Regions from separate parts of the Homo sapiens genome. Here region 2 is linked to region 1. The links come from fine-mapping of genetic effects on gene expression. A gene starts in region 1. The other region holds a variant in brackets. All regions are shown on one strand. Distances are between the middles of the regions.

Evidence for each region. PIP is the estimated chance that this variant, and not a neighbour inherited with it, causes the effect. A credible set is the group of variants that fine-mapping cannot tell apart.
Region 2: its variant is the best candidate, but not a certain one, in a credible set for the expression of DUSP3 in fibroblasts (GTEx, PIP 0.54).

What each region holds. Positions count from the first base shown.
Region 1 is chr17:43,775,850-43,781,206 of GRCh38, forward strand. DUSP3 (dual specificity phosphatase 3) reads right to left here and starts at 3,128. Exons shown (of 3, transcript NM_004090.4): 1 at 2,951-3,128. The coding sequence starts at 3,075. It overlaps CFAP97D1 (CFAP97 domain containing 1), which reads left to right and starts at 4,586. Exons shown (of 6, transcript NM_001136483.3): 1 at 4,586-4,737; 2 at 5,270-5,340. The coding sequence starts at 4,614. RefSeq lists an enhancer at 2,392-2,686 and a silencer at 2,619-3,308.
Region 2 is chr17:43,886,209-43,891,580 of GRCh38, forward strand. All of the region lies in intron 3 of MPP2 (MAGUK p55 scaffold protein 2), which reads right to left. Among named protein-coding and RNA genes, the nearest start is that of MPP2, 19 kb to the right of the region's middle. The variant G/A (reference allele first, on the strand shown) is at 2,843.

The DNA.
Region 1 (5,357 bases):
ACACCTGTAATCCCAGCACTCTGGGAAGCCGAGGCAGGTGGATCACCTGTCAGGAGTTCGGGACCAGCCTGGCCAACATGGTGAAACCCCGTCTCTACTAAAAATACAAAAGTGAGCCGGGTGTGGTGGTACATGCCTGTAATCCCAGCTACTCTGGGATTACAGAGGCTGAGACAGGAGAATCACTTGAACCCGGGAGGTGGAGGTTGCAGTGTGCTGAGATTGTGCTATTGCACTCTAGCCTGGGTGACAGAGTGAGACTCCGTCTCGAAAAATAAAATAAAATAAAATAAAAATAATAATTGGTCTGAATGGTGAAAAGGCCCCTTTATTTCATCTCACAAAACATCCCAGTCCAAATAGCAGTTTATACTTTATAAAATGCCACCTCCTGTGTGATCTTGCTTGCCCACTGCGAGCAGCCCTGTGAGGAACAAGGATGGCAATATCCCTGCTTAACAGAGCTTGAACTCAGGCCCAACAGGATGAGCAGAGGGATGGGCACAGGCCCCGTGTGCTGCTGGTGGCAGATCTGGGAGAAGACCTCCTTTCTCCCGACATCCAGCCCTGCTCTATCTTCCACCTCACTCTGCCCCTCATGCCCACATCTGCTGCAAAACCCCCAAGGCCTGGCACATGTGGCTCACACAGGCTCTGGCTCTGCCTTGTGAGGACGTGGCTGCGGCCCTGATTTTGTTAAGGGAATGGAGCCCAAATCCTCTTGGTGCTTGGTGCTCACTGATCCTCCCTGTTGAGGAACCCCCACACCCCTGGCCAAGTCAAGGTCAGAGGTGCTTAGAGGGCAAGGGATGTATTTTCTACAGTGGCCATCAGCAATTGCCACTCTGGCTACACCAGACGTGTACAACCTTGGTTTCCACTTGGGAAGTGATGACAGCTGAATGGCCAACCTGCCCAAGCAAGCGGGATTCCTGAGGCTAACAAGGCCTGCTTGCTGCTTGGTGCAAGAGGAAGGGTGTCTCTAGAGCTTTCCAATTCCTGAAGCCTTTGGCTGACACTGTGGGACTCTGTTTATTCCTGCTTAGGACACCGCGCAAGACTGTGAAGCAGTGGCTGATAGAAAAAAACACTTTGAAGAGTCACTCCCATTCATCTCCCTTCTCTAATACTTTTTTTTTTTGAGATGGAGTTTCGCTCTTGTTGCCCAGTTGGAGTGCAACGGTACGATCTTGGCTCACTGTAACCTCCACCTCCCGTGTTCAAACGATTCTCCTGCCTCAGCCTCCGGAGTAGCTGGGATCACAGGCGCCAGGCACCATGCCCAGCTAATTTTTGTATTTTTAGTAGAGACAGGGTTTCACCATGTTGGTCAGGCTGGTCTCGAACTGCTGACCTCAGGTGACCCACCCGCCTCGGCCTCCCAAAGTGCTGGGATTACAGGCGTGAGCCATCGTGCCAGGCCTCTAATACTATTAATAATTCAACATTCAAAAAATTTACAATTATCATTATTACTATCTCTACTATGAATGAACATTGTACAGTGCCTGACATAAAGCAGGTGCTCAGACTGGTGAATGAATGATGGAATGGATGAGAACTGTCCCCATGAGGCTGGGGCCTGATGGACCCCTTCTAGTTCCATGATGACCCCCATTTCCGTGGCAGTCCTTGGCAGGCTAAACAGCAGGTCATAGCGGAGGTCAGGAAATACATACATGAACAAGACATTGACCCTGTCCTTGTAGTCCCTCACACACTCTGAGCCACCATTTCCTCCTCTGTAAAATGGGAGGAGGGTTAGTTTTGAGTTTTCAACATGCCATCCTTGGGCTGAGCCATGAAGCTTAGGATTTTGGTAACTGGGTCCTCAGAGTATCGTGAAAATCCAACTTGAGGCTTTCCAAGGCTGTACAGGCATGCTAATATATTCTTTCTTGAGGCTCCTATTTCACATCTCAGAATGTTAACACTGGTTCTTTCCTGCTGATTAGACATTCTTACTAGAAAAAAAATTTAAAATTTAAATTAAAAAAAATCTCTTACTGTCCGGGTGCGGTGGCTCACGCCTGTAATCCCAGCACTTTTGGAGGCCGAGGTGGGCGGATCATGAGGTCAGGAGTTTGAGACCAGCCTGGCCAAGAGACCAGCCTGGCCAATATGGTGAAACCCCGTCTCTACTAAAAATACAAAAAGTAGCCAGGCGTGGTGGCGGGCGCCTGTAATCCCAGCTACTCGGGAGGCTGAGGCAGGAGAATTGCTTGAACCCAGGAGGCAGAGGTTGCAGTGAGCCGAGATCTCGCCATTGCACTCCAGCCTGGGTGACAGAGCCTGGGGGTGAAAGGTCAAGAGCCTTTTCTAGGTGGTGGCTCAGGTCCTTAGGGGGGTTATCACTGGACCGTTCTAGAATCTCCTGTAAATCAAATCACATCTGGAAGGTGGGGGCCTGGAAATCCCGGCCCAGCTCCCCGGACTCGCTCATTTGGGGTGTTTAGGTTCCCTGATCCGGGACTGCCGGGCCGGGAAAATTCCATGCCCGAATTGTGACGTCGGCCCGTTGCCATGGCGGCGAAGGCAGACATTCCGCGGTGACCTCACTGCAGAACCAGGCAGCTGTCACATGACGCGCGGGCAGGAGACCGGCCGGGCGACCGAGGGTCACCTGTTAAGTGAACATGGTAGCCCCGACCCCGCCCAAGGCCAAGCCCCAAGCGGGTGGCGGCTGGGACCCGGGCAGGCGCCACCCGGGCTCCGTGCACCCCGCCACGGGGAAGGGCCGCGCCCGGCCAGGCAGGGTTCCAGTTCCTTGGCCCCACGCGCGGGGGTAGGCGTCGACTCCAGGCCCCTCCCAAGCCCCCGCTGTGGCTCCCGGAGGGGCCATCGCGCCCGGGCTCCCCCAACCCAAGACTCGCGACACCCCGACCCCAGCCTCGGGTGGGCGGGGCGTCCCGAGAGGGACGGCGGGGCCGGGCTCGCGAAAGGGACTCACGCGTTGCCCACGTAGATCCGCGGGGTGACCTCGTTGCAGGGCTGGCTCGGGAGGCTGTAGCAGCCGCTGCCGTCCGAGAGCAGGTCGTTGAGATCCTGCACCGAGAGCTCGAACGAGCCCGACATGGCGGCGGCGGGGCCCTGCACGCCCGGCAGGAGCAAGCGAGGCGGAGAGCGGCGGATCAGCTGGGCGGGGGCTCGCGCCGGGAGCCGCCCCGTCCCGCCCCTGGGGCGGGCCCGCCGGGCTCCGGGAGCTGCGGAGCGCGGGCGCCGTGACGCGGGGGCCCCGCGCGCCACTCCTGGGCGCGTCCCGGGGGGAAGACGCCACCGCCCTGGAGTCTCAGGGGTCCTCGCCCCATCCCGGTCCAGGCCGTTTGTGTATCTTTGTAAACTGGCAAGCGCGGTAACTTCCTTCCCTGAATTAAATGCAGGGCCCAATAAACATTTCGTGGCGGAGGTACACCTAGGGGTCGCTTCAGTCTTTCATGATTACAGGGACCGCCGGGTTCGGCTCGTGAGCGGCTCCCTGCAGTGGAGGCACCACCCGGGCGCTTGACAGAATCCCCGCCCCAGCCCAGCCCTGCTGGATCAGAGTGGACATTTTACGGACCCCAGGAGGTCCCTACGGTCAAAGTCTGAGAAGCCCTACTCTGGGGCGCATCTGCTTTCAACATTCATTGAGAGTCATCGTCGTGCTTAAAAGCAGTCAGGTTTGGAATTCTGAGGAATTACTTAACCTGAGCCTGTTTGCAGGGAAAAAAAAAAAAAGCGGGATAGTAATGGTACCTAATTCTAGGGTTGCTGGAAGGGTTAAATGTGACATTCAAAGAAGGCACCCAGCACTGCATGGCGAGCACTCAATAGGTGTTAGTCCTTCATCAACAAATGCGTTGAGCACCCAGTGGGTGCTATACCCTGTGCTGGGGTGGAGATAAATCAGACTCCTGCAGCCCTTCCTGGAGCAGATGCCAGCCCACCATAAGCCACTCAGCATTTCCTGAACTCCCACTAAGTACAAAAGATAGTCTCTGTACTGGAGGAAAGCTGCCCTCCCCTACTGCCATGAAAAACTGGCAGTTTCCTTCCTGCAAAAGGGCAAATTTGGCCTTGAATTCAGGAACCCCACATCCTGAGCCCAGCCCTGCCACCAACTTGGTTCTTGAGTAACGTTGCTGCTGCTGTGGTCTTCAGTTTCCTCATTTGCAAAAGGAATTGGATCCGATTATCATTAGGGTCAACTTTCTCCTCCTCCAAAACTTGTGGTCTTGCACCTTCAGGGGAGCTATTGCAGTGGAGACTACTTAGCTGATAGCCCAAGATGTGTAACCAAGGCTGGAATTTCTGTATCCCTCACCCCACCCCGTGCCTGCCCACCCCTCCCGGTGCACCACTTCTTTCCTTCTGGTGTTGGCTGGCAGCATCTGCATTCTAAGCAGCGGGGAAAGCTTTCGAGTTCCTTGACCTTCATCTTGACTTGAGCCGAGGTTAGCATTAAAAACACAAGCCCAGAGGCAGCCAGCCATGCTCTGCTGCTCCTACTCCCTTCCCGGGACCTGTCCCTGATGTCATAACTGGGTAACTATGACAGCTTGTCATGGGGACAGCTAGGCACCTCACAGAGGAGTCTGGGTACCTCATTTCTGAAGTGAGACTAGGAAGAGAAGATGAACAATTCCCTGGATTATCTGGCCTACCCTGTTATCGTCTCTAATCACAGGCAAAGCACAACCTTCAGAAAGAAACTGGACTTTGGCCACTACGTATCTCACAAGAATAGAATACAAATAGGTATGTGGGCAGTTTGGGCTGGACACTGCTATTAGGGATTTTGGAATGGTACCCCATAAAGAGATCAACAGGAAACCAGACCAGGTCACAGCTTTGGGATGATATGGCCTTATCTGCTGAGTTTGGGGAAGAGGGCATTAGCACCAATAACAAAATGTATCTTCCACCAGGGAGTTCACTGGATGGAAATACTCCTTTAAACTCCTTAAAGCCGAAGTACGTTAGAAAGGGGATAAGACTTCAGAAGCCAATAGACAGGCTAATAATATTGGAAAAAGATTGGAAGAGAAGCTCTTTCATTGGATTAGAAGGACATTTATCTCTGTAAATTTTATTTTCACTATTCTTTTGTTTCTGCTCAAAACTCTCCAGAGATGTTCATTTGATAAATCAAACCAAACTTCTTGAGTCGCATTAAGGTCCTAATTCGAAATTGTTCATTAGTCAAGGACATTGTCTAGTGCTGGTTTTCTGAGGCCGCTACTGGAATTCCTGTGATGTAACATTGTTCCCTTTTATCCCCCTTCTCTAGCGAAGCCTACTGTTGATACCAAACCTCCAGTGGCGCACACAAATCACATTTTAAAATTGAGCAAACTACAGGTATTTGTTCTTGCTGC
Region 2 (5,372 bases), 110 kb after region 1:
TTTTCTGGCTTTTTATTTAAAAATATGTCATAGAAATCACTCCATGAAACTGCATGGAGATCTTCCTTTATTAATTATTATTGTTAGTTTGTTTGAGACAGAGTCTTGCTCTGTCACCCAGGATGGAGTGCAGTGGCGCGATCTCAGCTCACTGCAACCTCTGCCTCCCAGGTTGGGATTACAGGCATGAACCACCATGCCCATCTTATTATTTTAATTACTGCATTTGACTCCATTGCATGACTGGATTCCTGTAATTTATTCAACCAGTCTCCATGGGTATTTAGGTTGTTTCTAATACTTTGCTATTGCAAATAATGTTGCAGTAAATGACTCCGGCATAGTATTCTATATCTGTGGAGAAGATCTTCCATGTAAATTCCTAGAAGTCTTGCTGGGTCAAGCAGCAAATACATACGTAATTTTCTTAGATATTGACAAATTCCCCTCCATGGGACTTTGGCCAGTTTGCTCTCCTGCTAGCACTGTATGAGGGATTTTCTTGAAGCTCACCACCAGAGTGTTGATCAAACATTTGCATGTCTGCCAATCACATGGAGGAGAAATGATCTCTCATTGGGGCTTACTTTGCATTTTGCTTATTATGAGTAAAGTCAAACATCTCTCCATATGATTAAGGACCATCTGTATATCTTTTTCTGTGAACTGTCTACTCATGTCTTTCCCAATTTTTCTGTCAGGTCTTGGTTTTTATTCTTTTCCCTATTTTAAAAAATGTTTTCTCTCTATTGGGAAAATTAGCCCTTTGTGATATTTCTTGTAAATGATTTCCCCCAGTTTGTCACTTGTCTTTTGACTCTGCTTGTGGTGTTTTTGCATGCAAAAAAAAAAAAAAAATTTAGGTCAGGTGCAGTGGTTCACACCTGCAATCCCAACACTTTGGGAGGTCAAGGAGGAAGGACTGCTTGAGCCCAGGAGCTCAAGACCAGCCTGGGTAAGATGGGAAGCCCCTGTTGCTACAAAATATTTTAAAAATTCACCTGAGCATTTTTAATCCTCATTTTAATGCATGGTGGCATGCACCTGATGTCCCTGCTACTCTTACTTGGGAGGCTGAGGTGGAAGGATCACTTGAACCCAGGAGATTGAGGCTGCAGTGAGCACTGTTTGCACTACTGCACTCCAGCCTGAGTGACAGAGCAAGACCCTGGCTCAAAAAACAAATTTTTTAATGTGGGTGAATTTAATAATCTTTCATGCATCTGAATTTTGAGGCATAGTTTTTTGTTTTTTTGTTTTTTTTTTAAGGGAGGGCTTTTCCCATATACAGAGCCTTGTTTTCTTCTAGGACGTGTATGATTTATATTTTCACATAGAGATCTCTGATCCGCTTGGAGTTTATTCTGATATATGATGTGAGGAATAAATACACTTTGATATCTTTCAAAATGACTATCCAGATGTTCCAATACCATTTATTAAAAATTCATGGCAGGGCACAATGGCTCACACCTGTAATCCCAGCACTTTGGGAGGCCAAGGCAGGAGGATCACTTGAGCCCAGGAGTTCAAGACAGCAAGACCCCATCTCTATTTTTTAAAATTTTTTTAATTAAAAAAATTCAAAAGAAAACTATTGTTTGATTTTTTTTTTAGGTGTGACAATAGTAGTGTAGCTTTAAAGAATCCTTTTCAGTTGAGCCCAGGAGTTTATATACACAATGAAACACTTGCAGATACAATCTATTATGGCTGAGATGTACTCCAAAACAATGGAGGAGAGAGGGAAGCTGGTAAAGGTGTGGATGAAACAAGATTATGCATGACTTGTTGAATGTTGAAGTGGGGTGCTAGGTGATGGAGGTTCAGGATATATTCTTAAATTTTTTCATAATAGAAAATTTGTTTAGCCATGAGATGGTGAGATTTGAGTAATACTTCATAAGACTGCTGTGAGGATTTGGTGAGATGGACATAGTGCCTGGCAGACAGCAGGTGCTCAATAAAGGTTAGATGCTTTCTGCCTTCTCTTTTCCCAAACAGGCCAGGGAACAGCACCCCACATGGCCCCACAGCCTCCCATACCATCCTCTGCCGGGTGGGCAGCATTTTAGACTGACATCCACAACCTACTGGGGAAACAGACAACTGATGGGGCAGAGGAGTAGCATTTGGGGAAAGGAACAAGCCCCAGAGGGCTGGTCTTCCACAGACCCCTATGTGACTTTCAGTCATTTAGCTTGGCCCAGCCTATGGAGCCCCAGAGTGAGGGAGGCGTCCCAGCTCTGGCTCTGTTACCCTGTGCCTAGGACAATGTTGGAATCAAAGCCCAAATAACTGAGTGTCAAGAATAAACAATGGCACTCAGGCAGCAACAATCTCACCATGGCAACCCTTGCATGGCTCTTTTGGGTTAACAGGAGCCAGCTCTGGCACAGGTGTCCTGATGTGAGCATTAGAGAAGTCACTCATTTTGACTTTAGCACTATCTGGTCCACGGATGGAGGACAAGTTTTCCGAGGAGACGTGTGTGATCAAGGGGGAAGCCAGGGTGCCTCCTAAGCTGCTTACCTCCTATCTTTGACTTAATGACATTCCCACCATGGGCTAATCCATTCCTCCTCCTGTGGCCACCCCTGGACGTTTTATACCCACAGATATGAAAGCACAGCTCTCCAAGCTCAACCTCATAGCCCAGAGGAAACTTTAAACATTTAATCATTCAAATACAAAACCAACAATTCAGTAGGCTGAACAAATAATTTTTTTTTTTTTTAGACGGAGTCTCACTCTGTAGTCCAAATTGGAGTGCAGTGGCACAATCTTGGCTCACTGCAACCTCCACTTCCTGGGCTCAAAAATTCTTGTGCTTCAACCTCCC[G/A]AACAGCTGGGACTACAGGCACGCGCCACCACCCCTGGCTAATTTTTTATATTTCAGTTGAGATGAGGTTTCACCATGTTGCCCAGGCTAGTCACAAACTCCTGAGCTCAGGTGATCTGCCTGCCTCGGCCTCCCAAAGTGCTGGAATTACAGGCGTGAGCCACCACACCTGGCCTAAATTAGATTTTTTAAATGATATAACAAGGATCTAAGAGAACCCACCACCCAAACTAAAAAACAAAGCTCTTGTCAATATCCTACATCTAACCACATGCCCCACTCACCCTTCCCACTTGCAGAAATCACCATCTTTTTTTTTTTTTTTTTTTTGAGACAGAGTCTCGCTCTATCGCCCAGCCTGGAGTGCAATGGCACAATCTCGGCTCACTGCAACCTACACCTCCCGGGTTCAAGTGATTCTCCTGCCTTAGCCTCTCGAGTAGCTGGGATTACAGCATGCACCAACACACCCGGCTAATTTTGTATTTTTAGTAGAGACGGGGTTTCTCCATGTTGGTGAGGCTGGCCTTGAACTCCAGACCTCAGGTGATCCGCCCGGCTCAGCCTCCCAAAGTGCTGGGATTACAGGCATGAGCCACCATGCCCAGCTGAAAGCACCATCTTGATTTAGTGTGTTTGTCATTCCCTGGCTTCCCAGTTAAAGAGTTGTAATGTGTCTGTATGTATTCTACATACTTCTGAAATTCTGAAATGAATATAGTTAATAAAAAGGGAATTGTGTCTGTCCAAATGCGTTTTTTTTTTTGTTTTTTTTTTTTTGAGACAGAGTCTCACTCTGTTGCCCAGGCTGGAGTGCAGTGGCGCAATCTCGGCTCACTGCAACCTCCGTCTCCCGGGTTCACACCATTCTCCTGCCTCAGCCTCCCGAGTAGCTGGGACTACAGGCATGCACCACCACGCCTGGCTAATTTTTTGTAATTTTAGTAGAGACGGGGTTTCACCATGTTAGCCAGGATGGTCTCGATCTCCTGAACTGGTGATCCACCCACCTCGGCCTCCCAAAGTGCTGGGATTACAGGCGTGAGCCACCGCACCCGGCCGTATTTTCTATGACATAAAAAAAGGGGGGAATCATGATTTTATCCATCCCTGGGGTCTGATTTTTTTTCACTTAACATTAAGTGAACAATTATTTCCCTTACTGCTTTTTTACTCACTATTATTTTGCTAAGACTTATTCTTCTTTTTCATGTTAAGTGACACATGGCCCAGAACTAGAAGAGTGATTTGAATTTCTGTGGTAGCCATTCATTTCATTCTGCTCTGAAAATTATCCTCAGCAAAGCAGGGGCTCAAGCTCATGGTAGACCAGAAGCTTAAGTGGGAGACACAGCTAGTTTATAGTGGCACCAGCCTGCACTCTGTTCTGTTTGCTCCCAATCCAGAGCTGTAGCAGGCTGCAAATGCAAACACTACACAGTCATTTCACTGAAAAGTTTTCCCTCTGCCCTCCACTCCAACCCCCCGATCATGGCAAAAGACAGGGAATTCCTATTTGAAGCCCTGGTTCATAATTAAATAGTTAAATTAAAAGATGTCCCAGAGAGTAGTGTGTCAGAAAGTAAAGGAACTCTTTAATCTGGGTTTGACAGATGTGACTTGCTTTAGCCAATGGGCCATTATCAAATGTGAGCAGAGGCTTAGAAAGTGCTTGTGACTGGAGGCTTGTCCTTCCTTGCTTGTGAGACTACCATGTGAAGGTGGCTGAGGATGAGAGACCCTCCTAGAGGATGAGAGACCACATGGAAAGGGGTCTGGCCATCCCAGACATTGCAGTTTTCCCAGCTAAGACACCAGACATGTGAGTGAGGCCATCCCGGACCACCCAGCCCCAGCTAAGCAAGCCCAGGCCAGAAGAACCACCCAACCAACCCACAAAATCAGGGGAATTAAATCACAGTTGTTTTAAGCCACGACACAGCACGATGGTTTGTTACACAGCAAAAGTGAACTGATACACTGGCCTCACCACTACACCCTCTGCTTGTCATGTCCCCTTGTCAGAGCCCCTATCTTAGTGACCTCCCTAGACCTTTATTCTTCTAGGGCCCTGTCTTGCTTTCCCAGGTCTTCCACCCTAGCCTCCCCACAGAACAAGAGGCCTCCCTGTGAACTCTAGTCTGAAGCTAAGATTATAACAACTCTTCCTGATTCAAAAATCACTTCTGGCCGGGGTGGCTCATGCCTGTAATTCCTGCACTTTGGGAGGAGGCCGAGGTGGGTGGATCACCTGAGGTCAGGAGTTCAAGGCCAGCCTGGCCAACATGGTGAAACCCCATCTCTACTAAAAATACACAAATTAGCCGGGGATGGTGGGCCTGTAATCCCAGCTACTCGGGAGGCTGAGGCAGGAGAATCGCTTGAACCTGGGAGGCAGAGGTTGCAGTGAGCCGAGATTGCACCATTACACTCCAGCCTGGGCAACAAAGCAAGACTCCGTCTCAAAAAAAAAAAAAACTTACACTTCCATAACCTCCACCTAGCCCCACCACGACTCTGAGGGATAGGT